2 separate regions of the Homo sapiens genome follow, and region 2 is linked to region 1. The links come from fine-mapping of genetic effects on gene expression. A gene starts in region 1. The other region holds a variant in brackets. All regions are shown on one strand. Distances are between the middles of the regions. Region 1 holds the start of CTTN (cortactin). Region 2 overlaps SHANK2 (SH3 and multiple ankyrin repeat domains 2).

Region 1 (16,343 bases):
CATTTATAAATGAAGCAACGGCTGCAGGAAAGAGAAACGGGATGCTTGGTCTCCGGCCGCCCCATGGCACCATGCTGCCCTGGCGAGGGGGCTGCCCGCCTGCAGGACTTCAGCTGCCCATGGTTCCCACCACTGAGAAGGTGGCTGCAAGAAAGGATGGGAGTCCCTGCAGGGCTGGCGAGGCCACCTTCACCCCCAAGGCAAAGGAGAAAGGCGGCAGGTGTCTTTGCCTGGTACTTTTTCAGGCTCATCGGGGAGAGATTAGCAGAGCACAGTCTCTGCTCATCTTCCCGGACACAGCTTCACCAGCGAGCGGGGTGGGCACTTGCGAGCTTCACAATCCTGTGCCTGGGGGCCCCACCCATGTTCATGGGGTGGGGAAGGGGCCAGATTTCCCCTCAGGGAGGACAGGAATGGTTCTCTTCCTCAATTCCAGAGTTTTCTGCAATTGTCTCCTCTAAGTCATATGCAACAGAAACCTGACTTTATTTTTTAAACAATGAAATTTCCTTCCAGAATATTATCATCTCTCTCCCAGTAAATCCACAGAAACAGCAACCTCCCCCGTTTCCTGTTAAAGGGATTTTTGCCCTTACCATCCACAGGAAAAGAATGTTAGGATGTTCACAATGCACAAGTACCTTTCTTTCCGCTTGGAGATAAAAGGCTGTTCACGAAATTCTGTTTAAAACACAGTAATCCAATGAGGAATTTCCAGGCATTGGGGACTGATTCCGTCTGTAAAAAGATTAAGGGTAAAAAGCTGAGAAGGATGTATGTTGAGCAGCTCCCTGGGCAAACCCTTCTGTGTGGAGATCTTTTTAGAAAACTTCAGAAATCTTCCCAAACGTAACAAGGTTTTGTAATGAAATCTGAGAGGAGGATGGGAAGACTTGCATTTTACTAATAAAAAAGTTCAACAGAGAGAAACTAAAGAAATAAGTTTTAAAAGATTTCTAACTACATGATGACTTTTTGTCTTTTTTGTTTTGTTTTTTTTGAGATGGAGTTTCACTCTTGTTGCACAGGCTGGAGTGCAATGGCACAATCGCGGCTTACCGCAAACTCCACCTCCCGGGTTCAAGTGATTCTCCTGCCTCAGCCTCCCAAGTAGCTGGGATTACAGGCAGGCGCCACCACGCCCAGCTAATTTTCTATTTTTAGTACAGACGGGTTTTCTCCATGTTGGTCAGGCTGGTCTCAAACTCCCGACCTCAGGTGATCCGCCTGCCTTGGCCTCCCAAAGTGCTGGGATTACAGGTGTGAGGCATGGCGCCCGGCCTACATGATGTTTCTTATGAATGCAAACAGAAATTATTGCCTTAATTGCTAGTATGCATTTACTGTTTGCCATAATTCTTAGAGATTTTCACTTTTTATTCATTCTAATTAATGACATTATAAAATAAAATTGTTACTGTGAGCTTTTTAAAACAATAATATAAGAAAAACACTCCTTGAGAGGATCATGATATGGCCGGGAGGAAAAACCAGTATGGTGACTGTCTATCAAGACATGAGACTGGCAGCTGGAGAGCCGAGGAGGAGGCGGGCTGCATTCCTAATGAACGTACACGGTTACCGCGCAGGGAGCAAGACTCCAGCTCCCCAGAGGGTGGCCAAGCACACGACCCCTTCCCTAGGACCACACATCAGCCTCAACTGGACACCATACTGCTAGACAACACACATGGACGAATGAAATCCCCTTGTCCCTAGGAACAAGCCGGTCACAGGCAGAGTGGTTTCTCACGCATTAGGAACTAGGGGATGGTGCCTGGCTGGCCCTCCTGGTAATTAATTAATTTCCTATCTGGTTTCTGACCCAACTGTTTGCTCCATCTCTCTCCCCAGTTCCCTTCGGCAATCCTAACTTCTACAGATTGCTTGCTACATTCTGGTTACTGCAGTTATTAGTGTAATCGGCAAGCATCTATACAACTCTGCCTAAAAATTTAGCCAGGCATGGTCGTGTATACCTGTAGTCCCAGCTACTCAGGAGGCTGAGGTGGGGGAACTGCTTGAGCCCAGGAGCTCAAGGTTGCAGTGAGCCATGATCACACCACTGCACCCCAGCCTGGGAGACAGAGAGAGACCCTGTCTCATACATAAATCAATCATAAAGTAAATAATAAAAATCTACTCATGAGCAGCTAAGGATAGGCTCAGATCCACAATTTTATACTCTCAATATTGGAAATTTAAAAAACAATCACAAAAATAACCAATAGGAAATAAGTTTGATTGTTTTGTGGATCCAAAGATAAAAAGCCTCTAGAGCCCTACCTCAAAACCATACAGAAAAATTAACTCAAAAATGAACTAAAATCCTAAAAGGGTGTAAATTTTTGTGACTTTGAATTTGGCAATAGTTTCTTAGATATGACACCAAAACACTAGAGGAAAAAAATAAATTGTACAAAATTAAAAATTTTGTGCTTCATCAAGAAGGTGACAAGACGATCCTGAGAGAAAAGTATTTTGAACTGTAGATCCAGAATATATAAAGAACTCTTGGCCAGGTGAGGTGGCTCACGCCTGTAATCCCAGCACTTTCGGAGGCCGAGGCGGGCGGATTACTAGGTCAAGAGATCGAGACCATCCTGGCCAACATGGTGAAACCCCGTCTCTACGAAAAATACAAAAATTAACAGGGCGTGGTGACGCATGCCTGTAGTCCCAGCTACTTGGGAGGCTGAAGCAGGAGAACTGCTTGAACCCGGGAGACAGAGGCTGTAGTGAGCCGAGATTGCGCCACTATACTGCAGCCTGGCGACAGAGTGAGACTCCATCTCAAAAAAAAAAAAAAAAAAAAAGGAACTCTTATAATTCAATAAAAAGGACGAATAACCCCATTTAAAAATGATTGAAGGATCTGAAGAGACATTTCTTCAGAGGAGATATACAAATGGCCAACAAGCTCAGGAAAAGTTTGTTCAATGTCATTAACCACCAAGGAAATGCAAATCAAAACTGCAATGAGAACCCACCTCATACCCACTAGGATGACTAAAATAAAACAGCCAATGACAAATCTCAGCAACAGTGTTGAAAAACTGGAAGCCTCATAGACTGCTGACAGGGATGTTAAATGGAAAAGGTCTGGCAGTTCCTCAGAAGGTTAAACTCAGGTACTGTATGACTCAGCAACTCCACTCCTAGGTCTATGCCCAAGAGAAATAAAGTATAAGCACACAAAAACTTGTGCGTGAGTGTTCAGAACAGCACTATTCATAGCAGCCAAAAAACAGAAACACTCCAAATGTCCATCAACTGATAGATACATAACATGTGGTCTACCTAACACAAAGGCATTTTATTCTGCCACAAAGAGGATCCAGCAGTGACACCTGCTACAGCGTGGAGGGACCTCAAATCCATTGCGCAAAGGAAAACCACGCACAAAAGACCACATATTATACGATTCAATTTCTAGGAAATGTCTGGAGTTCACAAATCTACAGAGACAAAAGATACATTGCTGGTTGCCCAGGGCTGGGCGGATGGTGGTGGTGAGGATAGGGAGGTCATGGCTAAAAGGTACAAGGGCTTCTTTTTGAGGTGATAAAATTATTCTGAAATTGACTGTGGTGACAGTTGTACAACTGCATGAAGATACTAAAAACCAGTGGAGAGTACACACTACACAGGCGTATTGTATGGTATGTGAATTATATCTCGATAAAGCTGTTACAATACGGTTCAAAAGAAGATAATGACTCTGTCCATCCTCAACATTAAACCTTCCTTGCAAACGTCAGTGTACAAATCAAGATTGCACAAACGTGAAGTAATCTTGCTGTCTAGACAGAGTGAAAAATTCCTCTACACAATAACTTTTTTTTTCTTTTTCAGACAGTCTTGCTCTGTTGCCTAGGTTGGAGTGCAACAGCGCGATCTCGGCTCACTGCAACCTCTGTCTCCCAGGTTCAAGTGATTTTCCTGCCTCAGCTTCCCGAGTAGCTGGGATTACAGGCATGCGCCATCACACCCAGCTAATTTTTTGTATTTTTAGTAGAGATGGGGTTTCATTATGTTGGTCCAGGCTGATCTCCAACTCCTGGCCTCAAGTGATTTGCCAGCCTCAGCCTCTCAAAGTGCTGGGATTACAGGCACGAACCACCGCGCCTAAAAGCCCCCCACCAGCCTTTTTTTTCTTTTTTTTTTCTGAGACAGGGTCTTGCACTGTGGCCCAGGCTAGAGTGCAGAGGCACAATCTCAGCTCACTGCAACCTCTGTGTCCCAGGTTCAGGTGATCCTCCCACCTCAGCCTCCCGAGTAGCTAGGACTACAGGAATGCACCACCACACCAAGCTGATTTTTCTCTCTCTTTTTTTTTTTGTTTTTTTTTGTTTGAGACGAAGTCTCACTCTGTTGCCCAGGCTGGAGTGCAATGGTGTGATCTCAGCTCACCGCAACCTCTGCCTCCTGGGTTCAAGCGATTCTCCTGCCTCACCCTCCTGAGTAGCTGGGACTACAGGCACCTGTCACTACACCCAGCTAATTTTTCTTTTTCTTTTTTCTTTTGAGATGGAGTCTCAGTCTTTTGCCCAGGCTGGAGTGCAATAGTGTGATCTCGGCTCACTGCAACCTCCACTTCGCAGGTTCAAGCGATTCTGGTGCCTCAGCCTCCTGAGTGGCTGGGACTACAGGCATATACCACCACGCCCGGCTAATTTTTTGTATTTTTTTTTTTAGTAGAGACGGTGTTTCACTGTGTTAGCCAGGATGGTGTCAATCTCCTGACCTCGTGATCTGCCCACCTCAGCCTCCCAAAGTGCTGGGATTACAGGTGTGAGCCACCATACCCGGCCAATTTTTCTATTTTTAACAGAGATGGGGTTTCCCCATGTTGCCTAGGCTGATCTCGAAACTCCTGGGCTCAAGCAATCCACCTGCCCTTAGCCTCCCAAAGTGCTGAGATTACAGGTGTGAGCCACCGAGCCTGGCAGAAGAATGTTTTAAATGACAGGACAGAACCATCCGTCCACCATCAGCTTTCCATTAGCCTCAGCATCTATGGCAGAGCAGGAGGAGAAAGGAAACAGACACTTGCGTAGCCAAAATCACCATCACAGGCACACTCCCTACACCACACTTACTCAAGGGAAACCCCGCCCCCAACATTTACTCCGTTTACTCAAAGCAGTGCGTGAGCAGATGGGGTGGGCCTGGGCCACAGTGAAAGCCAAGCCTGCTCCTGGAGCACAGTCCCCTGCTCTTGGCTGGCCCAGGCCATGGGAATACTGCAACACAAGGCAGCAACCAGCGCTCACAGCAATTCACACTCTCAGGACACCTTTTCTGAGCACCTACTGCGTGGCACAGACTGAAGATCTGAATTGCCGATTATGTGTGCTGTCATTTTAAAAGTGTTTTAAAAACAAGTCCATCAAAATGCTACAATTAAAAGTCAGCTTTAGCTGGGCCTGCAGTCCCAGCTACTTGGGAGGCTGAGGTGGGAGGATCGCTTAAGGCCAGCAGTTCAAGGTTGCAGTGTGCTAGATGGCACCTGTGAAGAGCCTCTGCACTCCAGCCTGGGTGACAGGGTCTCGCTCTGTCACCCAGGCTGGAGTACAGTGGTGCGATCGAGCTCAATGCAGCCTCCAACTCCTGGGCTTGAGATCCTCTGCCTCAGCGCCCCAAGTAGCTAGGACAACAGGTGCAAGCCAACATGCCCAGCGAATTTCTTTTTTTGTAGACACAAGGTCTCCCTGTGTTGCCCAGGCTAGTCTGGAACTCCTGGCCTCAAACGATCCTCTCACCTTGACCTCCCAAAGTGCAGGGATTACAGGTGTGAGCCACCGCACCCCTGCCCCAGGTCAAAAGAAATTTCTTTTCAGTAAGATATAGCAGAAGGTTAGCTTCTAGTTCTAGGGGACCTAATATCAAAACAACCCTGCCTCCCCAACTTTTTATTGAGTCCCACTTAAAAGACTCTTCCTTGTTCCTTGAGTATCTGGCGAATACTTCTCTAACCAGAGGAGAAACAGGACTGACTCAGTGCTCTGGAGCCAGTGACTCACCCACACGGTCAAACACGTGAATGGAGACAGGGGCAGGCGGCCAGCCCCTCCTGCGCCACGGCCTTGGGCCCGGCCGGGCTTGAGGGCTGGATCATGCCTGAAGGACCTAGTGGGTGAAGTCCCCCCGACAGAGCCTGCGCAGCCAAGTCAACACTGAGCCCAAAGGGAGCGCATGGGATTCCAGGGAGCGCTCACCGGATGCCTCCGGAGCTTCCTTCAGCAGAAAATGAATTCCTCCCCAAGGGGCCCCAAACGTCCACAGATTCCAGCGGGAGGAAGCCCTGTCCCTTCTCACCCAAGGCCTTCCAGCTTCAGGGATCAGGCATCCCTTAGACTATCCAGGTGATGGAAACGTAACAGAAAGCCCCAAAGCACCGTTCTGGTGATTTTAAACACACCCCGAAGGAGGGACGGTTCCAAATTTAGAGCCTCACGACTAGCTGCAGCCGCGCCTCGCTGCCTCCACTGACCTGATTGCAAAACCTCCGCTCAGGTGCAGGCCGGGCGGATCCCCAGCTGCTCCGCCACGTCCCACAGCGAGCCCCTCAAAGTCGCGCACCCCAACCGCCTTGACCCCGCGGACCCCATCCCTTTTCCCTGCGCCTGGATCCCTTCCCCTGGAGCCCCAATCCCCTCCCCTCGGACCCTATACCTTTCCTCCGAGCCCCGACCCCTTCCCCTCGAACCCCAATTCCCTTCCCTCGGACCCCATCCCAGTAGCTCTGCGCCTGGACCCCTTCCCGTCAGACCCCAATCTCCTCCCCTCGGACCTCATCCCTTTCCCTCTGCACCCAGACACCTCCCTCTCAGACCCCTCGCCCTTTCCTTGAGACCCCCCACACCCACCTTCCTTGGCCCCTCGAACCCCGGCCCCCTCCGCTCAGACCCCCGAACCCCACAGGCCCAGCCCCTCTCCCTCGGGCCCTAATACCCTCCCCCTCGGAGCCCATCCCCCTCTCCTATTCCCTCGGACCCAAGACCCCTCCCAGCCTGGCCCCTCTCCTGCCCTGGAGCCCCCCGGCGCCCAGGGACCCTCCCCTCAGAGCTGATACCCCAATTTGGCCCCTTTCTAACCTTCCTCCGCGGACCCCAGCCCCAAGCCCTCCGTGCCCCCTTGCCCCCTGCCCGGCCTCCTTGGGCCCAGACCCGTCCTCGTGGCCCTCGCGGACCCCCGGCCCTCGCCCTGCCCCGCCCCAGGCCGGGAAAGCCTCGCCACTCTGCCCCGGCCCCCGAAACCGCAAGCGGAAGAGCGGTGAGACCGCTGCGGCCGCCGCTTCCTTCCCCTTTCGCGGCCAGGCGACGCCACAGGAGGGAAGAAGCAGAGCCCGGCCTGCACCCCGGGCGGACGCCGCGCTCGCTCACCGCCGCCTGGGGTCGGTCCGGCCCGGGTCGGCCCTGGATTCCGCCGCGCCAGCCGCTCCCAGGCACCAGGCTCTACTTCCGGTTCCGAGGGCGGGGGCGGGGCCGCATCCGGGTCCCCGCGCGACCCCGCCCCCTGCCCCGCCTCCTCCCGCGTCTTGGCCCGCAAGAGTCCCGGGGGTCCGCCCGCAGCTGGCTAAGCGCTAGCCCGGCCTGTGGCGAGTCTGCAGAGCTCGCCCGGAAGTAGCGTTGCGCGCGCAGAGGATGGGCGCTGAGCAGCACACAGCCCGCGGCGGGGTCTCAGGATCCGCGGCGCTGCCCGGGGCCGGGGGAAGGAAGCCAGCCGAGGAGACGCACGTGCCCTGAGTCCGGGAGCGGGGAGCCTCTTCATCTCTCCATCCTCCCTCCGCGCGCGCCCTCAGCCGTCCTCGTCCGCTCACCATGCACCTCCCCTCCAAGAAAGGGCCACATGCGTGCCAGGGACGCGAGCCCCGGCCACAGGGACATAGCAGCCTAGAAGGTGAGTCAAGCGTTAAACCACATGGGTACTCACCTGGGAAATGAGATAAATGCCAAGAAGTGAGAGTTTCATAACATCGTATTGGGGAGACGGTAGGACCTGAACCCCTGGGAGACCAGAGGTTTCTTTGGGCGATTCACATGTTAGCCAAGATGTGAAGGCCCTATAAGAGTAAACAAGGTAAGGAGGGAAGAATTTTCCAGGCAGGCCAACAGCAGGTTCCAACAGCAGGGCCAACAGAGGTCCCAAGGCAGGAACGGTCTTGCAGCAGGGGAACTGGAGGAGGCTCAGCTCAGCATGGTAGAGGGCTAGTGGTGCAGCGGAGCTGTGGTGTGAGAGGGGCCAGGTCATGCAGAGGCCGATAGAGCACAGCGAAGACCTCGGTCTTTATTCTGGGAGACACGGGAAGTCCTCGGAGGAAGTTAAGCTGATAAGAGACATCATGAAGTTTGGGCCAGGCGCAGTGGCCCACGCCTGTAATCATAACACTTTGGGAGGCTGACATGGGAGGATCGCCTAAGGCCAGGAGTTCGAGACCAGCCTGGTCAGCATAGTGAGACCCTCGCCCCCGCCCGCCATCGCTAAATAAATAAATAAGACATAATGAAGTTTGAATTGTAATGAGATCACTCTGGCTGCTGTGTGGAAGATGGATGGGAGAAGGGCCAGGTAGAGCCTAATGTAGCCAATTCGGGCAGACCGCTGGTGGCAGGTAAGATGGGGAGAAGTGGATAGATGCAAGAGGCATTTAGAAAGCTAAACTGTCAGATGTGAGGATGAATTGGAAGTGCGGGTGGCGGAAGGAAATGTCAGGTGTTGACCATTTTTTTAAAGGTAAAATCATGACCTTCATACACATATAAAATGAACACGTCAAATATTTTATTTAACTCGATAATGAATACATCATAAGTTGTTACAAATTGTTTAAAGAATTTGGCCAGATGCAGTGCCTCGCGCCTGTAATCCCAACACTTTGGGAGGCCAAGGCAGGAGGATTGCTGGAGGTCAGGAATTTGAGACCAGCCTGGGCAGCATGGCAAGACCCTGTCTCTACCAAAAAAAAAAAATTTTTTTTAAGAAAAAAATTAGCCAGGCATGGTGACGTTTACCTGTGGTCCCAGCTATTCTGGAGGCTGAGGCAAAAGGACCGCTCCGGCACGGGCAACAGAAACCCTGTGTCAAAAAAAAAAAAAACGGAAGACGAATGCTGAAATGAATTTGCAAAAACTGCTCTATCTCTAGTGCAAAGGTCAATTGCATTTAACTGGACACAGCTAATTTGCATTTTCTGTGCACAAGGATTGTTGGCCAGGCTTGTAATACCAGCACTTTGAGCGGCAAGGCCAGAGGATTGCTTGAGCCCAGGAGTTCAAGACCAGCCTGGGCAATATAGACCCCATCTCTGAAAAAAAAAATTTTTTTTTTTACATTGCTGACTGTTTTTTTTTGTTTGTTTGTTTAATCTTTAGAGACAGGGGCTGGAGTGCAGTGGTGCAATCAAGGCTCACTGCAGCCTCGATCTCCTGGGCTCAAGTGATCCTCCCACCTCAGCCTCCCAAGTAGCTGTAGCTGGAACTACAGGCACGTGCCACCACACTCAGCTAATTTTTTTTTTTTTGAGATGGAGTTCCCCTCTTGTTGCCCAGGCTGGAGTGCAATGGCGCCATCTCAGCTCACTGCAACCTCTGCCTCTCGGGTTCAAGCAATTCTCCTGCCTCAGCCTCCCGAGTAGCTGGGATTACAGGCGTGCGTCACTTTGCCTGGCTAATTTTGTATTTTCAGTAGAGACAGGGTTTCTCCATGTTGGTCAGGCTGGTCTCGAACTCCCGACCTCAGGTGATCCTCCCGCCTCGGCCTCCCAAAGTGCTGGGATTACAGGCGTGAGCCACCATGCCCGGCCTCTAATTTTTTAATATTTTTGTAGATACTGGGTCCTGCTGTGTTGCTAATGCTGGTCTCGAACTCCTGTGCTCAAGTGACCCTCCTGCACTGGGATTACATGTGTGAGCCACCACATTGCCAGGCCACATTGCTGCCTGTTTTTTAAAGGTTAATTTCTGCCTCTACAGAGGTATGAAATCATCTAGTCAAAAAAGCAGGCATAGCCGGTGGTGTCCATCTCAGAGGGAGCCCTGTGACTGTATTGATCCAGCACAAACCCCTCCTCTCAAGTCCCTCACTGTGTCACACCTTTTGCCATAAGAGGTCATAGTCATAGGTGCTGAGGATTAGGCTGTGGACATATCTTTGGGCGCCCACGGAAATGTTCTTATTTCTATTAAAATTGGAAAAATGAACTTTTAGGTTGAAGAAAATGTATTTTATTCAAGAAAACATGTAAAGAAAATATAGCAGCCAGGCGCGGTGGCTCATGCCTGTAATCCCAGCACTTTGGGAGGCCAAGGCAGGTGGATCACCTGAGGTCAGGAGTTCAAGACCAGCCTGGCCAACATGGTGAAACCCCGTCTCTAAAATTAAAGTACAAAAATTAGCTGGGCTAATTTTACAGAGAAGGAAAGACAAAGCTCACTGCAGACTTTTCAGCAGGAGGGCAGCGTTCGTGGCTTAGAAAGACCAGTCTGCTGCCGGTGAAGAGCAGGGTGCTTCAGAGTGGCTCCCAGAGAGAAAGGGGCAGCACACTCTTCCACATGCCCATTGTGCTCCCCAGGAGAATGTGTGGCAGAGACTGAGGCTGGCCACAGGAATTACACATACAGTGTAAAATTTGCAAAGCAAGAAGTATAGCTGTGCTCAAAAATAGGTCGAAGCCGGGCGCCGTGGCTCATGCCTATAATCCCGGCACTTTGGGAGGCCAAGGCAGACGGATTTCTTGAGGTTAGGAATTTGAGACCAGCCTGGCCAGCATGGTGAAGCCCCATCTCTACTAAAATTCAAAAAATAAAAACAAAAACAAAAACAAAACTGGTGGCTGGGCGTGGTTGCTCACGCCTGTAATCCCAGCACTTTGGGAGGCCGATGCAGGTGGATCACTTGAGGTCAGGAGTCCGAGACTATCCTGACCAACCTGGTGAAACCCCGTCTCTAATAAAAATACAAAAATAAGCCAGGCATGGTGGCAGGCGCCTGTAATCCCAGCTACTTGGGAGGCTGAGGCAGGATAATCGCTCAAACCCGGGAGGTGAAGGTTGCAGTGAGCTGAGATCGCGCCATTGCACTCCAGCCTGGGAGACACAGCGGGACTCTATCAAAAAAACAAAACAAAACAAAACAAAAGTGATATCTCTGTGAGCCAGAAATGAAGAGAAATGCAAAGTGCTGAGTGGGCCTGCAACTGCAAAGCTGCTGGGCCTGGGTCACCCACGCTTGTAAAAGAAGCACGCAGCCAGGGGCGCACCAGTGGTCCCAGCTACTTGGGGAGGCCGAGGTGGGAGGAATCACTTGAGCCCAGGAGTGCAAGACCAGCTGGAGCAACATGGTGTGAACCTGTCTCAAAAAAATAAAAATAAAGAAAAATTTTAAAAACCCATGCAGCCAAAGAGGGATGTCCAGACAGCCTTATGTCCAGGACCTGAGCAAACCAGTCCCTGACTTAGAGTGCAGATGGGACCTGGGGCATTTGCACCACCACGCAGGGCTGTAGGACTCAATACAACACGTGTGACGGAGATGTAGCTGTCCACCCAGCGCCCCCACCCTCCTCGGTACTAAGTGGACATGTGGGTGTCCAGCTCTACTACATTTCCCAGCTTCCCTTGGAGTTGGGAGCTGCCATGTGGCCAGGTTCTCGCCCATGGAACATGAGGGGAGGTGACATGCATGGCTTCTGAGCCTGGACCATCATTCCTCCCCGGGGCTGCCTCCTACCGTGGACCAGCTTCCTAGGCTGCTGCAACACATTATGACAGACTCAGTGCCTCAAAACAATGCAAATATATGCTCTTCAGCTCTGGAAGCCAGAGTCTGAAATCAGTTTCATGGGCTAAAGTCAAGGTGTCAGTGGGGCTTGTTCCTTTTGGAGACTCTAGGGGAGGAACCATCTGTGGCCTTTCTAGCTTCTTGCATCCCTCAGACCCATGCATTCATCTTCACACCTGTTTTCTCTCTGTACGGATATGTCTCTTTGCCTCCCTATTACAAGAACATTTGGGATCCCATTTCAGACCCACCCAGAATATCCTCCCATCTCAAGATCCTTAATGTCATGACATCTGCTAACTCCTTTTTGCCATGTAAAGCAACATCACATGTTCTGACTATTAGGATGCAGACATATTTGGAGGCCATTATTCAGCCTACTACAGGTGACAGGTACAACCTTGGAAGCCCTGTTTTGAGGATGGCAGAGCCCACCAGCCTGCATCCCTCCAAGACTGCGTGGAACAGATCTTCCTTACTATCCCTTTCTCCTCCTCTGCCTGACCTGGACATACACCCTGCCCTGTTACGTGAAAGCAAAAGAAAATCCTGTTGTGTTTAAGATATTGCGTTTGGAGTCCATTTGTTCCAGATGTTTAGCCCACCCTAATACAGAGAGGTTGAGGCAACTGCAGAACAGGGAGACAGACAGCGTCACACACAGTGAGGAAGAGAGAAAATGAAACATTTCCTAATTAAAATGAACCTAGAATGTAAGTTCCAAAGGGATTGTAAAAATGAATACTAAATAAGAAAGCCAAAGGCCAGGCACAGTGACTCATGCCTATAATCCAGCACCTTGGGAGGCCGAGGCAGGTGGATTGCTTGAGCTCAGGAGTTCAAGACCAGCCTGGGCAACATAGTGAAGACCCTGTGTCTACAAAACTTTAAAAAAATTAGCTGGGTGTGGTGGCCTGTGCCTACAGTCCCAGCTACTTGGAAGACTGAGGCAAGAGGATCAGCTGAGCCCAGGAGGTCAAGGCTGCCAATGAACCATGATTTCGCCACTGCACTCCAGCATGAATGATAGAGGGAGACCCTGTCTCAAAATATAAAATAAATAAGAAAGCCAATACTGTGAACAATGGGAACATGAATTATTAAAGTTGAATTTTATATTGTAGAACATGAGTATGATTTTAAAATTATGTTTAGAACCAGGCCATGTGGCTCATGCCTGTAGTCCCTGCTACTCAGAAGGCTGAGGTGGGAGGATCCCTTAGGCCCAGGTGTTAGGAGTTCACGGGTACAGTGAGCTATAATCATGCCAGTGCACTCCAGCTTGGGTGACAGAGTGACTCTGATTTAAAAAAAATGGGAATGGGACTGGGCGCTGTGGCTCACGCCTGTAATCCCAGCACTTTGGGAGGACGAGGTGGGAGGATAACCTGAGGTTAGGAGTTCAAGACCAGCCTGGGCAACATGGTGAAACCCCGTATCTACTAAAAATACAAAAATTAGCTGGGTGTGGTGGCGGGCACCTGTAATCCCAGCTACTTGGGAGGCTGAGGCAGGAGAATTACTTGAACCCGGGAGGTGGAGGTTGCAGTGAGCCGAGATCACCATTGCACTCCAGCCTGGGTGACAATAGTGAAACTCCATCTACAAAAAAAAAAAGGAAAAAAGTCACCGAGATTGCCAACCCACTGAATCAAAAGAAGCAATAAATCTTGGTTGTTTTTTACTGTTACATTTTGGGGTGGGTCTTTAAACAGCAACGGATAAGAAAATATAGCAGATGATCGTGGGGTGGGAGCAGGGGACAGCATAGAACATATTAGACAGAAAACCTAAGGGTATATTTCATATACATATTGACAAAAAAATGCCAAACTCTGGAAAGTATTAAAAGAGATTTATTCTGAGCTAAATGCAAGGGCCATGACCCATGAGGCAGCCTCAGGAGGTCCTGAGAACATGGGCCCAAGGTGGTTGGGTTACAGCTTTGGTTTATATATTTTAAGGAGACATAAGACATCAATCAGTGCATGTGAGGTATACATTGGTTCCATCTGGAAAGGCGCGACAACTCAAAGCGGGGGCTTACAGGGCATAGGTGGACTCAGATTTTCTTTTCTTTTTTTTTTTTTTTTGAGACAGAATCTCACTCTGTTGCCCACGCTGGAGTGCAGTGGCATGATCTCGACTCACTGCAACCTCCACCTCCCAGGTTCAAGCAATTCTCTGCCTCAGCCTCCTGAGCAGATGGGATTACAGGCCTGTGCCACCATGCCCGGATAAGTTTTGTATTTTTAGTAGAGACGGGGTTTCACCCTGTTGGTCAGGTTGGTCTCAAACTCCTGACCTCGTGATCCACCTGCCTCAGCCTCCCAAAGTGCTGGGATTACAGGTGTGAGCCACTGTGCCTGGCCAGTTTTTCAGGTTTCTTTGGCATCCTCTTGGCCAAGGGGGAAGGGTCTATTCAGTTGGTTGGGGGTGCTTAAGAGTCACTTTTGGTTTACATACCGTATCAATGGCTGTGTAATTGTCAGGGGCGTGTGAACCAGAGCAACTCCATCTTGAATAGGAGCTGGGTAAAATGAGGCTGAAACCTACTGGGATGCATTCCCAGATGACTGAGGCATTCTAAGTCACAGGATGATGTAGGCGGTCAGCACAAAATACAGGTCATAAACACCTTGCTGATAAAACAGCTTGCGGTAAAGAAGCCGGCCATAGCCAGGCGTGGTGGCTCATGCCTGTAATCCCAGCACTTTGGGAGGTGGGTGGATCATGAGGTCAGGAGTTCAAGACCAGCCTGGCCAACATGGTGAAACCCCGTCTCTACTAAAAATACAAAAAAATTAGCTGGGCGTGGTGGCGGGCACCTGTAAACCCAGCTACTCAGGAGGCTGAGTCAGAGAATTGCTTGAACCCGGCAGGCGGAGGTTGCAGTGAGCCGAGATCGCACCACTGCACTCCTGCCTGGGTGACAGAGTGAAACTCCATCTCAAAAAAAAAAAAAAAAAAAAAAAAAAAAAGCAGCAGCAGGCGGCCAAAACCCACCAAAACCAAGATGGCGGCGAGAGTGACCTCTGGTCGTCCTCACTGCTACACTCCCATCAACGCCATGACAGTTTACAAATGCCATGGCAACGTCAGGAAGTTACTCTATGTGGTCTAGAAAGGGGAGGCATGAATAATCGGCCACCCCTTGTTTAGCATGTCATCAAGAAATAACCATAAAAATGGGCAACTAGCAGCCCTTGGGGCTGCTCTATTCTAAAGGTTTGCTCTATTCTTTTGTTCCTTTGCTCCCCTAATAAACTTGCTTTCACCTTACTCTGTGGACTTGTCCTGAATTCTTTCTTGTGCAAGATCCAAGAACCCCCTCTTGGGGCCTGGATCTGGACCTCTTTCCTGTAACATAATAAACCACCCCAAACATAATAAACCATAAAAGGTGGTGGTGTTTACTGGTGAAACCTTTCATCATGCTCATAATTTTGTGAGTCAGATGGGGGATGTGGGAGCGGCTTACCTTCATTTCAATGGTCTCCACTGGAGTGGCTCATCTGGTCAGCCATGGCTGCGATGAAGACCGGGGTTCTATGTCTGGGCCTCGCTTCTGAATGTTGGGTACGTCAGAATGGCTTCTCCTCCAGCACGGCTGTGAGAACTGGCATGTCCAAGTTGGCTTCATCACGTGTATGGCTGGCACTTCGAATAGGATGGCGGGAGCAGCTGGGGACAGACACTAGACAGCTCTCTCCAGTCTTTTCATGTGGCTAGCTTGGGCCTCCTTACAGTGGGGTGGTCTTGGAGTAATAGGACTTATTACTTGCTAGTCACCCAGACTCGAGTGCAGTGGCGCGATCTTGGCCCACTGCGACCTCCGCCTCCCAGGTTCATGCCATTCTCCTGCCTCAGCCTCCCGAGTAGCTGGGACTACAGGCGCCCGCCAGTATGCCCGGCTAATTTTTTTGTATTTTTAGTAGAGACGGGGTTTCACCATGTTAGCCAGGATGGTCTCGATCTCCTGACCTTGTGATCGGCCCGGCTCGGCCTCCCAAAGTGCTGGGATTACAGGCGTGAGCCAGCTCACCCGGCCACTTGGTGGCTTGTTTCTTTCAGAACGAGAATTCCACAAAACCCAGGAAATCGTCTTGTGACCTAGCTCCAGGTCTCAAAGTTATGTCTGCTGCATTCTTTTGGTCAAGCAAGTCACTAAGGCCAGCCCAGGTTTAAGGGAGGGGAGTTAGACTCTTACCTTTCACTGTGAGGAGTAGCAGAGAATTTGCAGCCTGTCTTAAATGTTTTGTCACATACTGTATGTGTTTCATCAAGTCTAACATGTTGTGGGAGCCAAGGCCCTTGGCCCCCTAAAGGTTTGCTGAAAAATCACTGGCATGAGGCAGATTGGCTAATCGGAGAAAAGGCACACACATGTATTTACCATGTATACACAGGAGCCTTCAGAATAGAGACCCAGCCCCCCAGGAGGTACAGGAGCTTATCCAGGCTTGTCCAACCTGCCTTATTTTGTTGTTCTGTTCTAGGCTTTTGGCAGCCCAACGCCATGGTTTTGAGTTTCTGTCTCTAGTGATAAGTAGAAAAGA
Region 2 (16,343 bases), 72 kb before region 1:
GTGATTAACGGCTGGGCTGTCATCTCATGATGTAGACTTGAAGCAAAGCACTTGTCCTGTTGGGGTGCCCTCCCCCACCAGGAATGTTCGTTTATCCTCCCTAAGCCACAGGAAAGACAGTTCAGGCACCTGAGGTAGGAAATTGGCAATAAGCTGCTTCTCAGTGGGCTTCAGGCAGAGGCGAACTTCACTCCAATGCTACTATTTTCTTTCTTTTTTCCTGGTTATTTTTCTTCTTTACAAGTGGTTACATTATCCCAAGCCAAAGAAGGAGAAGACAAGCTTGTGAGTTTCCCACGCTCCCTATGAAAGTGATGCCATATTGATGTTTCAGCTCTGGGCAGGCTGTGGCAGGCCGAAGGGACCACCACGGATGGGCTTTCAGCCAGGGTCTGCCCCACTGCCTTCATTTCATCTGTCGAAAAGCAGCTTTTTTCTGTTTCTTCCTTTCTTGTTCATTAATTTTTGCAGTGTTGTCTCAAGTCATTCCATTTGTCATTTTCATTTGCTCCCATGACCGGTGTTAACAGAAGAGGGTCGTGCTGAACAGAAGTAAGTGCCACCTGCTGTGCTGCTGCGTGACCCCGTGTGTGCCACTCTCGCGCTCCCGCTGCCCACCGAGGTGTTTGCAGAGCCTCCTCTTCGCTTCCTAACCACACACACAGCTGCCTGCAGAGCCTTTCCTTACAAAAACCAAAATCAATCCCAACTACCTGGGAACAGCTGGGTATTTTCCCAGTGAGGGCAGCACTGGGGCAACCCTCTGGGCCAGAGATACCCGTGGTGAATACTGCCCAGGCGTGAGGTAGGTGCTCTCACTCTGGGGCTTTACTTGCCTCTGCTTCACAGGCCTGGTGAGCACCAAGGCCAGGCACCAGTCATGCTGCCACGGTGGAGCTGCCCAGAGTCAGGGCTGCAGGCACAGTCACCATGTAGTCAGCTTTAGCAAAAGCACATGGAGACCAGAACTTTACCCCAGCTACCCCTCCTCCTCTAGTCCTCTGTGGGCATATGTCTTCTTGTAAGATGTTTTCCCATTTTATAGGAAACATTCCCTGTGCCCCAAGGTCCTTGGCCCTAATTAACACCCCAAATCACCTCTGAATGCAGTGGCTTTCAACTTACCCATTATTTGATTTCAATCATCTTGGCTTAATTGTTTTATCAACGTGGACAAATAAGCCTTCCCCAAAACTGTGCTCTTGTGACTCTGGAATAAACACAGAAGAACAGGCCACAGCACCCCCAGTTTTAAGTTGGAACTGGAGCTGGTCTTTCGACCTTCTTTGAGTACCAGAGAAGGGGGGGTTGCAGGTTTTTTCGTGTATCCTATGTCCATAGGCCACCTCTCTCTTGAGAGTATAAACTGAGATACTAGAGGGTGCTGGCCCCTCTCCCCTGCTGTGAAGCCCCACTGGGCTCTGATTTGATTTCGGGTTTTTTGGGGGTTTTTTTATTGTTGTTGTTGTTGTTTTTGAGAAGAAGTCTAGCTCAGTCGCCCAGGCTGGAGTGCAGTGGCACGATCTCAGCTCACTGCAACCTCCGCCTCCTGGGTTCAAGCAATTCTCCTGCCTCAGCCTCCCAGTAGCTGGGATTACAGGCGCCCACCACCACACTCAGCTAATTTTTTTTTTTTTAATTTTTAGTAGAGATGGGGTTTCACCATATTGACCAGGCTGGTCTCGAACCCCTGACCTCAAATGATTCACCCACCTAGGCCTCCCAAAGTGCTGGGATTACAGGCGTGAGCCACCGTGTGCAGCCTCTGATTTCTTGATTGTGAGTAACTGGGCCCAGAAACAGTGGAGGAATCCTCAGAGTCTCACCTGCCTTGTGCCTGTTGGTGTGAGCAGTATAACCAATGACCAGCAAGCCACCATTGAGGGTGGGGGCAGGTTCTAGATGGGGATGCCTGGTTTGTAACATCTCCCACTCAGGGGCACCCAGCCCTCTGGAAAATAGCACGTGAACACCCTATGGGTGGATGGGGTCCCTGGCCCAGCAGTGCACCCACCAGCCCCTGCAAACACTTCTCACAGTAGGATTGAAGCCTCAGTCCACAGCACAGGCCCCTTTCAGATTTGCCCCTCCTTTCTCACTATGGACTAGTCCACACTTTAAGCAACAGTGACTAACATCAAGTAGGAAACTGACCCACAGCTTAGGGGAACCTAGGTAACTGATGGGTGGTTTCACCCAAATATACATCCATGGTAAAGAAAGAGAAAAGAAAAAAACGGAGAGAGACAGACTAGACCAGCAGCGGGGCCCGTCTCCAGGTCACTCCCTTTGCTTTTAGCTCCTGGAGGGTTCTGGGCCATTAGCTTTGTGCATACCCTGGAATGAAAACCAAGGCCCAACCAAATGGCCTCTAAGGTTCAGGGTCTCTCAGTGTCTGGGGAGTTTGTTAATTGCAGACACCTGGTCCCCATGCACAGCACTCCTGCTTCCACAGGTTTGAGACGAGCTCAGGAGTCCTCACGGCCCACCAGTGTCCCAGGTGGTTTCTATGAAGGGTCTGTGGGCTCCTCTTTGGGAAGTGCTGCTCTAACTGGTCAGCCATTGAGCTCCAAAGACAGCCCCAGTGCAAGTCGATGAACTGGCCCCCAGCAGACGGGCAGGGGCTTCAGTCTTGCCCTCCAGGGAGTCTCCCCACACGGCAGCATCTCTACTGTTTGCAGCTCTCCCCCTCTTGCCCATGACCCTTTCACTGAGACACTGCAGCCCACCACCATTCACGGTCACGATGTCACACCAGTGCACTCCTCATGCTCTCCAGAGCCCCTCCACCCAGGGTAACCCACCACATAGGAGGGAGAGGAGCCCACTTCATGTGGGAAGATGTGGAGACAGGAGAAAAGTGCACCCAAGCTGGCATCTGACAGAGCCAGGGCTCCAGCAGACATCTCTCAAGTCCAGGTCTTGAAGAGAGAGCCGTGGTAGGATGGATCTTTTCAGAAGCGGTGGGTGGGCCGTTCATATCCACGTGAATGGGCCCAAAAGGCAAGAGACCCACACCTCTCCTCCCCTCCCCAGTGGCTGTGGCTTTCCTAGGGACAATAGGATGAATGGGCTTTCAGTGTGGGGACAGCAAAACATGCACTAGGGCCCAGAGTGGCAGTTCTCTTGGTGTGGAGAGTGCCTGCCACAGGCCTTGGCCAGAGCCCGTGAGGGAGTGGTGTGTGAAAGGCCACCTCCACGTGGGTAAGCGTGAGGACTTGGACTTCTCTGGCACTGAGATGGGACCTCCTGCCTGTGGGAGTCATCTGGCCACCACCCTGGGGCCAGTAAAGGTTGGAGCTAGAAGGGTCGTCCTCCCTGACTTGAGCTCTGAGGGCTTTGCCTGCCCAGCCAGAGCGGCAAGGCACAGGGGACCCTCGGGGACGCCCATGGCCACCCTGGGGAAGACAGGGCTCCTCACGCGTTCTGCTTTTCAGTAAGGCCCGTGTGTCCTACCAGTGAGCCTCTCACATGAAAGGGGCTAAAAATAACACAGGGTACCCCAGCTCCTTCTGCAACAAAACTGTCCACTGGGTGGGCGCTGGACAGTGCTGCCTCAGGAAGGTGAGCGCAGCCCACACTGGCCACACAAGCCACGCCCTGCTGTCTGGGTTTCCGGGTGATCTCAACCCCTGAGTGCCCTGCGTAGCTACAGGGGTTCCAGTTACTGAAAGGGGCCACCTGGGAAGGATCCTGCCCTGCTCTTGTCCATTTACCCAAAAAGCCTAAGGCTGCCAGGCGGCTGAGGGGCCTGTCCTCCAGGTGTGCTCCTTCCCACCTGCTGAAGCTGAGGCGCTGGAGATGTTGCCTGGCACGTTCTACCCAGGTGACAGGACCCCACTCTGTCCCTGTCTCCGTGCCCTCTTCAAGGGACCCCTTCCAAATGCCTCAGTGGCCACCCTCCCGAGGGTCCCCCGGCCCTGCCCCCCAGCACAGGCAGGTCCCCCAGCCCCTCTGTCCCAGTTCAGGTGAGTGGGCTGACGTGGTGTGCTCCCCCCAGCACAGGCAGGTCCCCCAGCCCCTCTGTCCCAGTTCAGGTGAGTGGGCTGACGTGGTGTGCTCTGGTGTCTCCAACTTTGCTCTGGCCCCTTTCTCCCCCTCCCCCACCCTGGCATGGCAAATCATTCGTTCACTGCCAGTGGATCTGCCACTAGACACTCTGGCATGGTTTGGGCGTCTCCCTCGCCTTCCTGGGTGATCTGCAGCCAGCTGCCCTGACTCGGTGACCTGCCTTGTGATGGTTTTCTCTGTGTTGCTGTTTCAGAAGCCCGGAGATCATGAGCACCATCTCAGGTACACGGAGCACGACGGTCACCTTCACTGTTCGCCCCGGCACCTCCCAGCCCATCACCCTGCAGAGCCGGCCCCCCGACTATGAAAGCAGGACCTCAGGAACAAGACGTGCCCCAAGCCCTGTGGTCTCGCCAACAGAGATGAACAAAGAGACCCTGCCCGCCCCCCTGTCTGCTGCCACCGCCTCTCCTTCTCCCGCTCTCTCAGATGTCTTTAGCCTTCCAAGCCAGCCCCCTTCTGGGGATCTATTTGGCTTGAACCCAGCGGGACGCAGTAGGTCGCCATCCCCCTCGATACTGCAACAGCCAATCTCAAATAAGCCTTTTACAACTAAACCTGTCCACCTGTGGACTAAACCAGATGTGGCCGATTGGCTGGAAAGTCTAAACTTGGGTGAACATAAAGAGGCCTTCATGGACAATGAGATCGATGGCAGTCACTTACCAAACCTGCAGAAGGAGGACCTCATCGATCTTGGGGTAACTCGAGTCGGGCACAGAATGAACATAGAAAGGGCTTTGAAACAGCTGCTGGACAGATAAGGACGGCTGCTCTCCACCTCGCAGACTGCTCTTGTTATAAGTAGAGATGGGCTCGTGCTGAAACATCTGAATGCCAAGCGAAGTCTGTGAGCATCAACCCCACTCCATGGGTTTGTCTCCTGGTACCCAAAGAAATACTGAGTTGTGTCCACAACATGGCTGGGTCTTCAGACCCCTGGCTCACCATGTGGGTGTCTTGGGCAGTTTCTATCACACATGGGACAAGGGGAGGGAGTTTTTCTAACATGGAAAAAGATTCTCAGCCTGCCGCCCAGCATGCAGGTGGCCTCGCTTTGCCGGGTCCGAGAGGCTCCCCGTCAATTTTGCACGGGATCCTAGCTCTTGTAGGCAGACACCAGTGCACTCTAGATACCTCCTGAGACCTCCGTCCTCTGCTTTCCGGGCAGCTCTCACCACCCCAGGCCCCGGCATGAGGCCTTTCCTCAGTCCTGTGGCCTCTCAGAGGACACCTGATGCTCACCTGCCCCTCTTTCTCCTGCACTTGGCTTGCAGTGAGATGCTCCCAGATGCATTTGTCCAGTGCCCCATCATGGGCCTGAAAGGCAGAGAAACTTTTTCCTACACAGATTCTTTTCCCCATCTCCTCCTGTGGTTTGCATCCATGGCTCTTTGGCCATGAGGTTCCTGGCAGTGCTGGGAGTTTGGATGGGATCGTGCCCAGCTTTGCTTAGCTTTCTTTATTTCTGCAAATCTGTTAGCATAATTCCAAGGTGGCCAAGCAGATGTCACATGGAGTTAGTCAAAGCACAAAGTCACGATTCCACAATGGAGGGGAGACCTGGCCAAGGGAGCCAGCCAGCGTGCAACTGCCCAAGCTCCAGGTCTCCAGGACAAGAGCAGTTGTCTGCCATGAGCACCCATCCAGGATGGAGAATAAGGGCTTCTCTGCCTCTCAGAATTCTTTTTAATTGAAGATGTCTTGAGCTCTGCAAAGATCAGAGCAGGTGAGCATCCACTTTGACATGAAGGACAAGAAGACGCATGGCTCATGGCGGGCACATGCGGCTGCCAGTGAGACAGCGTCTCCTCTGGGAGCTGGGCGGGCACAGCATCCTCAGTTCTGTGCCCAGCCAAGGGTGAGCATCTCTGCTGAGACAGTCCTTTTGCTCTCGGAGGCCAGGGAAGATGGTACTTAGAGGCTTTTCCCCTATCGCTCTGGGTGTCTAGGAATCCCACCAGCTTGTCTTAACAGTACAACAGCTTCTTTGAGGACCCAGTGGGTATGGAGTATAGACAGAACCCAGGGTTGAGAACAGAAGGTGGGCGGCAGGATCAGAGTGAAAGCAGAGGCGTGAGGAGAGGAAAGCAGGGAGGTCTCCTGGGCTGCCAGGTCAGCCTCTCTGGCAAGGCTTTCTTGAGCCCCGCCCCTTTCTTTCCCCGGAGTCCCTCCACCCCATAACAATACCTCGAATTTCCAAAAGAGGTCACCAGATGCACATGGGCCGCAAAACACACAGTCAGGCTTCCAGCACATTCTCCCCCATTTGGAGGATACTCGAATGTCAGGTTTTTGGTTTTATTATTATTTCAGAACTAGCTCAGCCCATCTCTAATTATAAAACATGGTTTTGTTTTTTTTTTTTCCTTTTTTTCTTGATTAGGTCTGGAACAGCTCTAGAATGAACACATAAAATTTAGCAATTTAAAATCTTTCTTTACTGCAAGTTTAAATAGTTGTACAGATAGTTTATAAGCACAATATTTTAAGAAAAAAAAGTGGCTGGTCTACTAGGCAGCCTTTGTGCCACTTCAGTGCTAGAAAGTTAAAGAAAAAAAAACTTTTGTGATTTAATAATACTATTTCTGTGGAATAATTATAAAAGTATGACCTTTTTAAATCAACCTTATTTGGATGCATCTGAACCAGCAGAGCTGTGTTATATTTTCTATCTTTGCTAGAACTTCGTCATTGAAGGACAATTTCTTCAAAGTGGTTACAATTCATAATGCAGCAGTTTCTCCAAAAACAAAAACAAAACACACACCACACACACGCGCTTTTCCAGTCACACACCCCTGATGTTGGAACCAAGTTTTTGGACCTTCTGTTCCAAAACCTTTTGCAGGTCAATCTTTGTATTTGAAATGATCCAATCCAACTTGAAGTCAATTGAATATTAAGGCGCTTTACTTCCGTGTGCTTTCAGTTTTTCCATCATGAGATGAATGAGCATTACTCTAGATAAATTTCAAGACAGGATACTACAGGTGGCCTGCTGAGGCTGCCCCATATTTTAGAAAATGTAAAAATGGTGGTTTGGCCATTAATTTGTCTTCCATTTGATGATACCGCAAAATTCCGTGAGTCCATTCCTTTGGCATGGCACTTTCCCTGGGCCTACAGTTGGTATTACCTCTGTGCTCAGTGCCAGGCAAAACACTAGCTCAAAGGAGAGTCAAGGAAACCGCTGGCAGACGATAACCAGTCGAAACTCGTGACTTCGGTTTGTTGAACTTTGGCAGCCAGTTGGTGAGGGCCAGATGTTATTCCCTTTCTTAAAGATACTCCAAGCCACATGCCACTAACCACAAGCAAGCTGGCTGCAAGACTAAAGAGCTGA[T/C]AACATAGTTTATTTTTACACTGTCTTATTATAGAGAAGTAATAGACCTATCAGAACCTGCACTGACCAACAAATAAACACATGTTGCCAAGATGAATCGGTCTCTATCTCTATCTGCTTATTTTGGTACTGAAAGCAATAGTTCCTCATTCAAATCACCACCCACTGTTCTCCCCCTTTGGGACATGTTAGGACGAGGCCCTATTCCATGCCCCTCTTTAATGGTGGAACAAATGTTAAACTGCTCATCTAAAGATCATGTTGATATTATTCCAGGTTTTAAGATCAACTTTTGTTACATACTGTAATTTAAATAAACTGCATTTACATGCCTAGTTTCTGTAATATTGTGTATACAAAACCCAAATCTCTCAAAATGTAAATTATGTATACCTGCCAAGATACCTTTTCCAGGGTGTCTGCGCACATTTTAAGTTAATTCACATAATATAAAAATTACTCAATGTGACTGTTGATTTGCTGAACTTTACATATCACAAAGTGAATTATTTGTGATACTTTAGTTAATAAAATGGTAAATTTTTTTCTCAGTTATTGAACAAGCAAGCATTATCCAGTTGATCTGGCAATGACTTTTTGTGTGTGGGCCACAATATTGATTTTCCCATTAACAATTTTTTTTTGTTTTTTAAATACTAATATGTTTCACACTATAGTTTGTGTAACAACACGTGTTCGCATTATCTATGTTGCTGTTACTTTTGTGCTTTTATTCTTTTTAGACTTTATAAAAAAAAAAAAAAGCTCCTGTAATTTGCACTTTCTCCCAATCCTTAAATCTCTTGTATGGCAACCAAAATTACTGTAAAAAAATAAATATACTATTGCACTAAGGTTGTGGTTCTGATTGCAAACAAACAGTGAACACTGTCTGAATTAAACAAAAAGCTGCCCGACTTGCAATCTAATGTAGATTATCTCAGGCATTGTGGCCAGCTCTGCCTCTCTAAAACTGACCAGAAAAATCTCTCTCATCGAGTAAACAGGCTCCTGTCACTGAGCTAATCTGCCTTGGTTCCATTTCCTTATTCTCAATTTATCAATGGATACGTGCATGTTATTTCAGAATTATGCAAAACGTCAAAATCTGCTTCTGTGACCGCTGCTATAGGCGTGGAGCTGAGGCTCGGCTTTTCCTTTTGTTCTGGGTGGAAGCAGCGGTGCCGCGGAGGGCCAGCCAGATCCGGACCCTTCCCTTAGGGTCCAGTCTCCCCACACCCCAGCAGGGTGTCTTCTAGCCATAAGGCCAAGGGAGTGGCAGAACTGGGCCGCCTCTCTGGTTGACAAGCAAACCACATGCTAAGGCTTGGAGCAAGAGAGAATTTGTGTCTATTGGCAAAGAACTAAGCCAGGAAGACATGGGCCATCCCTCCGCTTTAGGGAAGCATATTTTAAACCTAAACGTTGAACTTCTTCTTTGGCCTCACCAGTGAAAACTTGTTGTCTTTAGTTCCTAAAGTTTCTTCTACTTTGGCACATTCCCCAGTTGAGCAGCAGCCTCTATGCTTCCACGTTCAGGAAAAATTCCAGTCCTCATATCTTTTGTAGTTCACCCTCAAGCTCTCCCGCTTCACCATCCAATAGTTTCTCCCAAACCTTGGCACCCCCCTAGACTTTGCTTCCAATGGTTTCTTCCAGACCACTTTTCCTAGATGAATATATTCGTTTACCTTACTAGGAAAATTATTGGAAGATTTTTTCTTTTACTTGAAATTGGAGGCATTTTAATAACTGGCGAACTGGAATGTGTTTCTGTATTTGTAGACAACCATGAACCCATGCAAGTAGGTGAACATTCCACAGTGGCTGGGTGACCACAGCAGCTGCATGCAGACAGGACTGCCCGTGCTTTGTGGGGAATCAGAGAATTTCCAAACTTGTTTCTCAGACTTCCGCAGATCTCATCACTTTGATTTCTAATCCATGCTGTATTGGTGATTTTGTTTATCGTTCCTGTAACTTGTTCTACATTCCACAGTCTTTACCGTTTTATGTTCAAAATTACAACAATCCCTGTCCATTGATTCCACTCTGGAACTCTTTGTTCATGCCAATTTTGAAATTTTAATACGAGCCTTCAAATAAACACAGAAAAGAAAAAAAAAAAGGAAAAAAAATAAAGTGTGTGCCTTGGGTGTTTTGAACCTGATCTGCATAAAACCATATTGTATTCAAATGCTGTATCTTTCATGAAAGGATAAATATATCTTCAATGTATTAATGTAGCTGATAAAATAGTTATAGTGCCTTGTTTTCTGAACTGAGAAGCCCATATCAATGCACAACGTAAAGAAAGGACGGTTCGAGCTATGAAATGTTGAGGACACCTACACGTGATTCTGGAGCCTTTCTCATCATAAGACTGTGGAAAATACACAGTCGTTTAAGTTAAAAATAAAAAGTAAATTGAAATAAGATTGTGTTATCAATTAATTTTCCATTAAAAGTGCTCTCTACTGTATCATTTTCAGTATTTTCATTTAATTAAAATACAAAATGTGTTTGAGGATTTTCATGGAAAGGAGAAAAGTTTAACCACAGGAGCCCTGGGCTCTCTGACCTACTCCCCTTGTGCTGTGCCGCCCCCCGGTGGTACTCATTGGTAATGCTTAACGAAGCCATCAATATCAATCATTTCGACGTTTTGTTATAAATATACACAAATTCATTTTTAGTGATTGAGGCCACTCATTGCAGGAAAACTGTTTCCATTTTTCACAAGTGAAAGTGGCAACATGTGTGTTTTTCTTTCGACAAAAAAACGATGTGAGAAGTACATCAGTGTAATTCTTGTCTCAATGCTGTCATGCTCCATTTGCTTTAAGTGCGAAGCTTCCCTGAGCAGCCTCTGCCTTTCTAGAGGATGAGCCTGCGGTGTAGTGAGCATATTAGGGCTGCCATCTGCCTGTGGGACCAGAATAGCCACAGCAATAGTGAGCGTTTGTGGGATTCCGGACAGATGGGAGCGGCAGCAGCCCCATCTTCTCGGGGGCCCCCCCGCAAACAGGCCGCAGAAGTTCTGGAGGCAGAGCACTGCCACAGGCTGTCCTGCCACACACATCTCTCCAGGGAGTGAGGAGCTACTCAGATCCAGAACTCCCCACTGTGCCTGCTCAGCTCACAGACTATTATCGGTGTGGCTATTTACCAGCCAGAAGAGTCCACTGGAATTCAGACTGTGTAGTTTCAGGCAACAATGCAGCCAATAATCCAAGAACCTGCAGGGTGCTCAGGGAGATGTGGCCAAAGCTTCTTGGTCACCCTGCTCCACATGTGCTGCTACCTCCGCTCCAAGTATGAAGCATGTGTCTGAGAGCCAGAGGAGGGGCCCTGGCACTGCTCACAGCCACTGGGTAAGACCTGGCAGCCAGGCCCTAGGCCCCCATGAGGTAGGGACCACGGAAATGGCCCAGTTCACAGGACAGAGTGTGGAGACCCCTCACCAGCCACCTGCATCTGGGGGCCGGCCCCTCTGACGCGGTGCTCCTGGAAGGCAAGCCATCCTGCCATTGCCCAACTGTAGTCATCTCTGCCCAAGATGACTGCAAAAACAGAATTAAGCGTGTTCTCCAAACCCCAGAACCCGGGGAGTGGGAAAAACACATAGCCCCTGCAGCCCTGCAGAGGTGGCCACAAGCACAAGCATTCTGTGTGTATACCCAAGAGGCGGTACAGGTTGGAAACAGCACTCAGTCTACCTAGTGCTATCTGGGACGGGCACCGTTCAGATCACTGCACCCACCACGTGGCTAAAAGCCCTGTGAGGTAACAACTAAAGCCCTATTTCCCAGATGAGGAAACTAAGTCTTGCCAAGGTCCACAGCAAGTGGAGAAGCAGAGGTTGCTGTGCAGCTTCCCAAGTCTATCTACAGGTGACAGAACCCAGCCCGGGGCCTTGGGAACCATCGCTGGCTCCGAATCTGCTCCACCCACAGGGTGCTTCCTCTCCCTGCCCCATCTGACGTCATATGTGCAGGGCTAAGAATTCAGGAGGCGGGGCAAGGGGGGAGTCCCTACCAGCTGAATCACCTCAGGGTTGTGGAAAACGAAGACCGAATTCAGTGGCAATCTGGTTACCTTAATTCACTCCACTGGGATCAGGAGAACCAAGACCTAGAAACCCCTGTTTCTCAGAGAAAGGACCCAACATTTGTAAAGTCCCCTTGGCTTAGAGGGCATGTGACACATGGATCTGCTTTAATTCCCACAAGAATCCTATGAGGTTAAGCATCACTGAGGTGACTATCTCCTTTTCTCACGAGGACACCGAGGCTTGGAGAACCAGTTGCCATTGCCCATGGCCTCCAGGCACCTACACAAGTTATCCCCAGACTGTGGGCCCTCACCATGGGGGCAGAGTTGCCCGAGGCCAGTCCTTCCCAGGTCCTCCATGAAGCCTTCCTCTTGTGGCTGTGAACTGCCCAGAGCCCTCCCAACACACACCTCTGTGGCCTCAGCCAGCCAGAGCCCATTTCTGTTGCTTACAACCACCATATGACAGAGCTCCTAGCCCCCCACGATGATGATGTGTTTTCTCCCACAGCCCACGGCCTCCCTCTGCCAGTCAGAACTGGGGCAGCCCTTTCCTCTCCTTCCACTGTCACCCCCATTGGCAGAAGAGAAAGGCGGAGCTAATGAAGAATGAGATGGGGGTCTCATGGCTCCCGAGTGAGCCTGGAAATGGCTTGCCAGCCCCATGCAGCTGTGAAGCTCCACTTAACGCCAAGGGCATGGCCAGCTGCCCTCCTGGCCTTGGAGCCACCTGGGAGAGCTAAGAAACGCTCCATCTTCACAAGTGGGAGTTTATACAAGGTGCCCGATAGAGACATCGAGGCTCCAGGGAAAACCACACAGCCTGAGACCTTTAACACCCAGCATGCTTGCTGGGAAAGACCAGCCTCCCTCGCCAATAGGCATGGGACCAGCTTTCTCCGGTAGGCCCCAGGAGGGCTAAGTGGAGAGTGTGGTGGGAAGGAAGGAGACCACAAAAAGAGAGGTCTAGAAATAGCAGGAAACACAAGCCACCTGTGCATTCATAGCAGCGACACAGAGACGGCCACACTGACCTCAGCTCTGCCACTCTGCCCACCAGGTCCAGAGCCATCTGGCCCCACCCACCCTCCTCTTCGGGCTTCCTCCCTGCTCACCTGGCTCCAGCCACAGTGCCACCTCAGCGCCGCCTCCCTGTGGGGTCCCCGTACCTACATGGCTTCCCAGATCACCTGATTTAGAATGGGACTTACTGCCATCACCCCCTCCCACATCCCCAGGGCACTTACTGCCACCTTCACTGGCTTATTGCTTTACTTACTTGCTCACTGATTAGTGCCCACCGCCCCACCCCGCCCACACATGCCTCTGGAAGACAATCCCCGTGGGGGAGGCACGGCCTGTTTCATGCACTGCTGTAACCCTGGCCCAGGCAATGTCTGCAGGGACAGCCCCTCCTAGAGGCCCCCTCACAGCCTCAGCCCACTGCAGCTGTGCCCATGCTGTGGCCACTCCCACTCCTGCAGCTTCCATCTGGTCCTCAGACACCTGGTAAGGAAGAGGGGATTCCCCAAAGGCTCGGAGCACTGCCTGCCCCTCCACGGGCCCTCCTAGTCCCCTGCCTGGAAAGTGCCTGGGAGTCTTCCACCTGCCCTGCTCCCCGAGGCCACCAGACCCACGGACTTCGCCCGTCCTGTCCCAGGGTGTGGAAAGGAACACTTCCCTAGTCCTCTCAGCGGCCGCAGCAGAAGCAGACTGTGTTCTGGGCGGATGCTTGGGCTGAAACCCCCAAACCCCACGAGTCTGTTTCTGGCACACGGAGCTGGGCTCCACAAGGGAAAGACGCCTGTATAGACTGGCCCCGTTTCAGTGAGTGGAAAGTCCCACAGCTCCTTGGGGTACTAAGGGGATGCTGGGAGGGTGCGCGACTCGTGCACCGAGGCCCACAGTGGAGGGGCTGGGAGTGCAGCCATTCTCCCAAAATCAGGTGTTTGGGGTCGCGTATCGCAACCCCCAGCTTCCGGAAGGAGACACAGTGTCTGCCCTCGGCTCACCTGAGCGTAGCTTCAAAGACCGCAAAGGCGTCCCTGAATGAGGACAAAGATTCCAGCCTTGGCCCGACTCTAGCCGGGCGCCTCGGAGACCTCACCTGGCCTAGGCTTAACCTCGGCCTATGGAAACGACAGCCTCTCAAACCCCATGTCTCCGCCCACCTCTCGCCTGTCATTAAGACTTCAGCCAACACTAATGGCTCAAGGCCGCCGCCCCGGGAGGCCCCAAGGCCCCTCAAAGGCCCAACTCGAGGAAGGGCAGGGCTGCCGGAGAACTGCTGCTCCAGCCGCGCCGGCCGGGCCCAGGCGCGTTCCTTGGAGCCTTCACCGCGGGGAGCCGGCACCTCAGTGATTCTGGCGTCGTGCACCCGGCGTCTCGCTCCAGGACCCGAGAGCCGCCGTAGGGAGGGTTTGCAGAACCCAAACCGCCACACCTGCCAGCGCATCCACACCCACAGCCCCGAGGCACGCTCCACTTGCGCCCCTACTCACCCTCATTCTCCTCTCAGTAGGCGAAGGGCGCCTCCGCGCAGGCAGCCGAGCTCAGGTGGCGCCGGGCCTGCTCCCGCGTGCGAAGCCGTCCTCACGCCGCAGCGGCGGGGCCTTCGCCCTCCTCGTGGCCCGCAGCCCCCGGCTCCCAGGCCAGGGATCTGGGTGAGGGCGAGGGCCACAGAACGGGGAGGAGATTGGTCACTGGGGGCCCCCACTCTGGAAGGGGCCAAAGCCAGGCCCACCTTTCCCCCCAACAACCCCCGCGCCACCTCACCCAGGTCCCAAGCAGGATGCAGCCACCCACGGCCGCCATCCCACCTTCTGAGCCTGGCCTGCACTCTACTCCCGCCTTTGAACAAGGCGGGCAGAGGACTCTGGGCCCACTGGTCACATGCCTCACATTGACCAATCACTGGCAAAGAATGGGGATCCACGATTGGCTGAGCTAGAGTAGGCAGGGCAGCTATCAGCCAATCCCTGGGACCAGGAGGCGGGTCCACAGACGAGGCAGGTGCCCTGGGAGGGAGCTGGGATATTGATGTCCCCTTAGGTGCCTGTATCCTCCTAAGGGAGCAGTGAGAAGTCCCTCCTTCAGTGTGGGGGTGCACATGTTTGAGGTTTGTTTAAGAGTTATGGCTTTGAATTTCAAAGCTATGTAACCACATTAGGCACACCCTGGAAAATGGAGAATTGCCACAGCCCTGCCACCAAGCTGAGTTCACCTCCAGTCCTAACACCCACCTTCTCCCTGCATTGAATCATGACGCACCTACACCTCCACTCCTGCTTCCTTGGCTTCCGTTTAGCCCCCAAACCTTGCTTGCATGGCCGTCAGTCCCCAGCCCTTCATGGAAATGGTGGTGTGAGATCCCATTGAGTGGTATGGTGTGATGTCCTTGACAATGTCCTTTTAGTTGGCATTCGGGATAACGACCACTTTTCGCTATTACGGTATCATCTTACATCCAGTCCTCTGAAGGTGTGGTGTTCACATCACTATGGTGCTGCTGCATACACTTCAACCCACGAGACAGACCCTAGGCAGGGTCTGTGCAGAGCGGTGGGACAGATATAAAGAGGACATGTATTGAAACAGAGTCAGGGCTCCAGCCTCAAAGAACTCTTGTCCTCATCCAAGTTCTGGAGCTTGTTAGCTATGTGGCCAGGGCACCTTAACACAGATGTGAACATTTTCACTCTGACCCCTGGACGTAGATCAAACAATGGAAGTAAACAGTTGTGTCTGTTGATATCATGTTTGGCTGCAAATAACAGAAACTCCAATTAAAAGCAATTTAAACAAATAATGGTTTATTCTTTTCATATCACACAAAAATGTAAGCTCCAGAAGGGCCTGGATTTGTCGGTCTTGTTCACTGCCCCAGCACCTAGAATAGGATGTTCTTAGTATGTGCTGGAGAAGAGGTGGGTGGTTCCCGGCTTTGGTCTGACAGCTCAACAGTGTCAAGTCTCAGATTCCCTCAAACTTACCACCTCACAGCACCCAAAGGCTGCTGCCACTCCACACACGACATTCTCTTCCAAGGTAGGAAGAAGGGACAAGACTATGACAGCCAAGTCTCTCTCTTTTAACAGAAAAGTCAATGCTTTCCCAGAAATGTCTACCAACACATCAGCCACAATGGTGTCTGCAGCAAATTAGAAGCAAGGCAGACTGGCAGAGTGAGTGGTTAGCTTGGCACTGTGCTGCCAGGAACAAAATGGGGTGGGTGGGATGGAGGACAAAATGTTAGCAAGGCAGAAGGGGAATGGACAATGGGTGGGCACGTGGCAGATGCTAGCAAGAGTGTGTTCAGGTGGAGTGTCCTCACTGAGCATGTGTAAGTGTATGGTTCATTGGCATTAGATAAATTCAATGTTGTACAGCCATCACCACTACCTAGTTCCATCACCCTAAACAGAAATCCCGTACTCAGTGAGCAGGCCCTCCTTGTTCCTGCCACCACCCCATCCCCAGCTGCAGGCAACCACAAATCTACTTAACATCACTATGGATTTGCCTATTCTGAGCATTTCTTATAAACGGAATCAGGAAATATTTGTCCTTGTGTAACTGGCTTATTTACTTACTGCAGTATTTCAAGATTCATCCAAGTTGTGGCAGGTATCAGAACTTTGCTCTTTATTATGGCTGAATATTATTTCACTGAATGAGTAGATCATATTTTGTTTATTCTCTTGTCAGTTGATGAATATTTGGGTTTTTTCCACCTTTTGGCTATCGTGGATAGGGCTGCTGTGAACATTTGTGCATGAGTTTTTGTTTGAACACCTATTTTCAATTTGGCGGGGGTTGGGGGGGCGTATACTGAAAAGTAGAACTGCTGGGTCCTGTGGTATTGCAATGTTGA

What was found.
Region 2: its variant is fine-mapped to the expression of CTTN in whole blood (TOPMed, PIP 0.99).

Annotation. Positions count from the first base shown.
Region 1 is chr11:70,389,660-70,406,002 of GRCh38, reverse strand. CTTN (cortactin) reads right to left here and starts at 7,474. Exons shown (of 18, transcript NM_005231.4): 1 at 7,389-7,474; 2 at 642-738. It overlaps CTTN-DT (CTTN divergent transcript), which reads left to right and starts at 7,541. Exons shown (of 3, transcript NR_186321.1): 1 at 7,541-7,905. RefSeq lists silencers at 1,645-1,824, 6,548-6,617, 7,199-7,708, 7,809-7,858, 8,956-9,144 and enhancers at 4,966-5,260, 8,109-8,178, 13,960-14,729, 15,501-16,270, 16,271-16,343.
Region 2 is chr11:70,461,361-70,477,703 of GRCh38, reverse strand. It overlaps SHANK2 (SH3 and multiple ankyrin repeat domains 2), which reads left to right. Exons shown (of 26, transcript NM_012309.5): 26 at 4,265-9,850. The coding sequence ends at 4,835. Among named protein-coding and RNA genes, the nearest start is that of CTTN, 71 kb to the right of the region's middle. RefSeq lists an enhancer at 7,255-7,464. The variant T/C (reference allele first, on the strand shown) is at 7,418.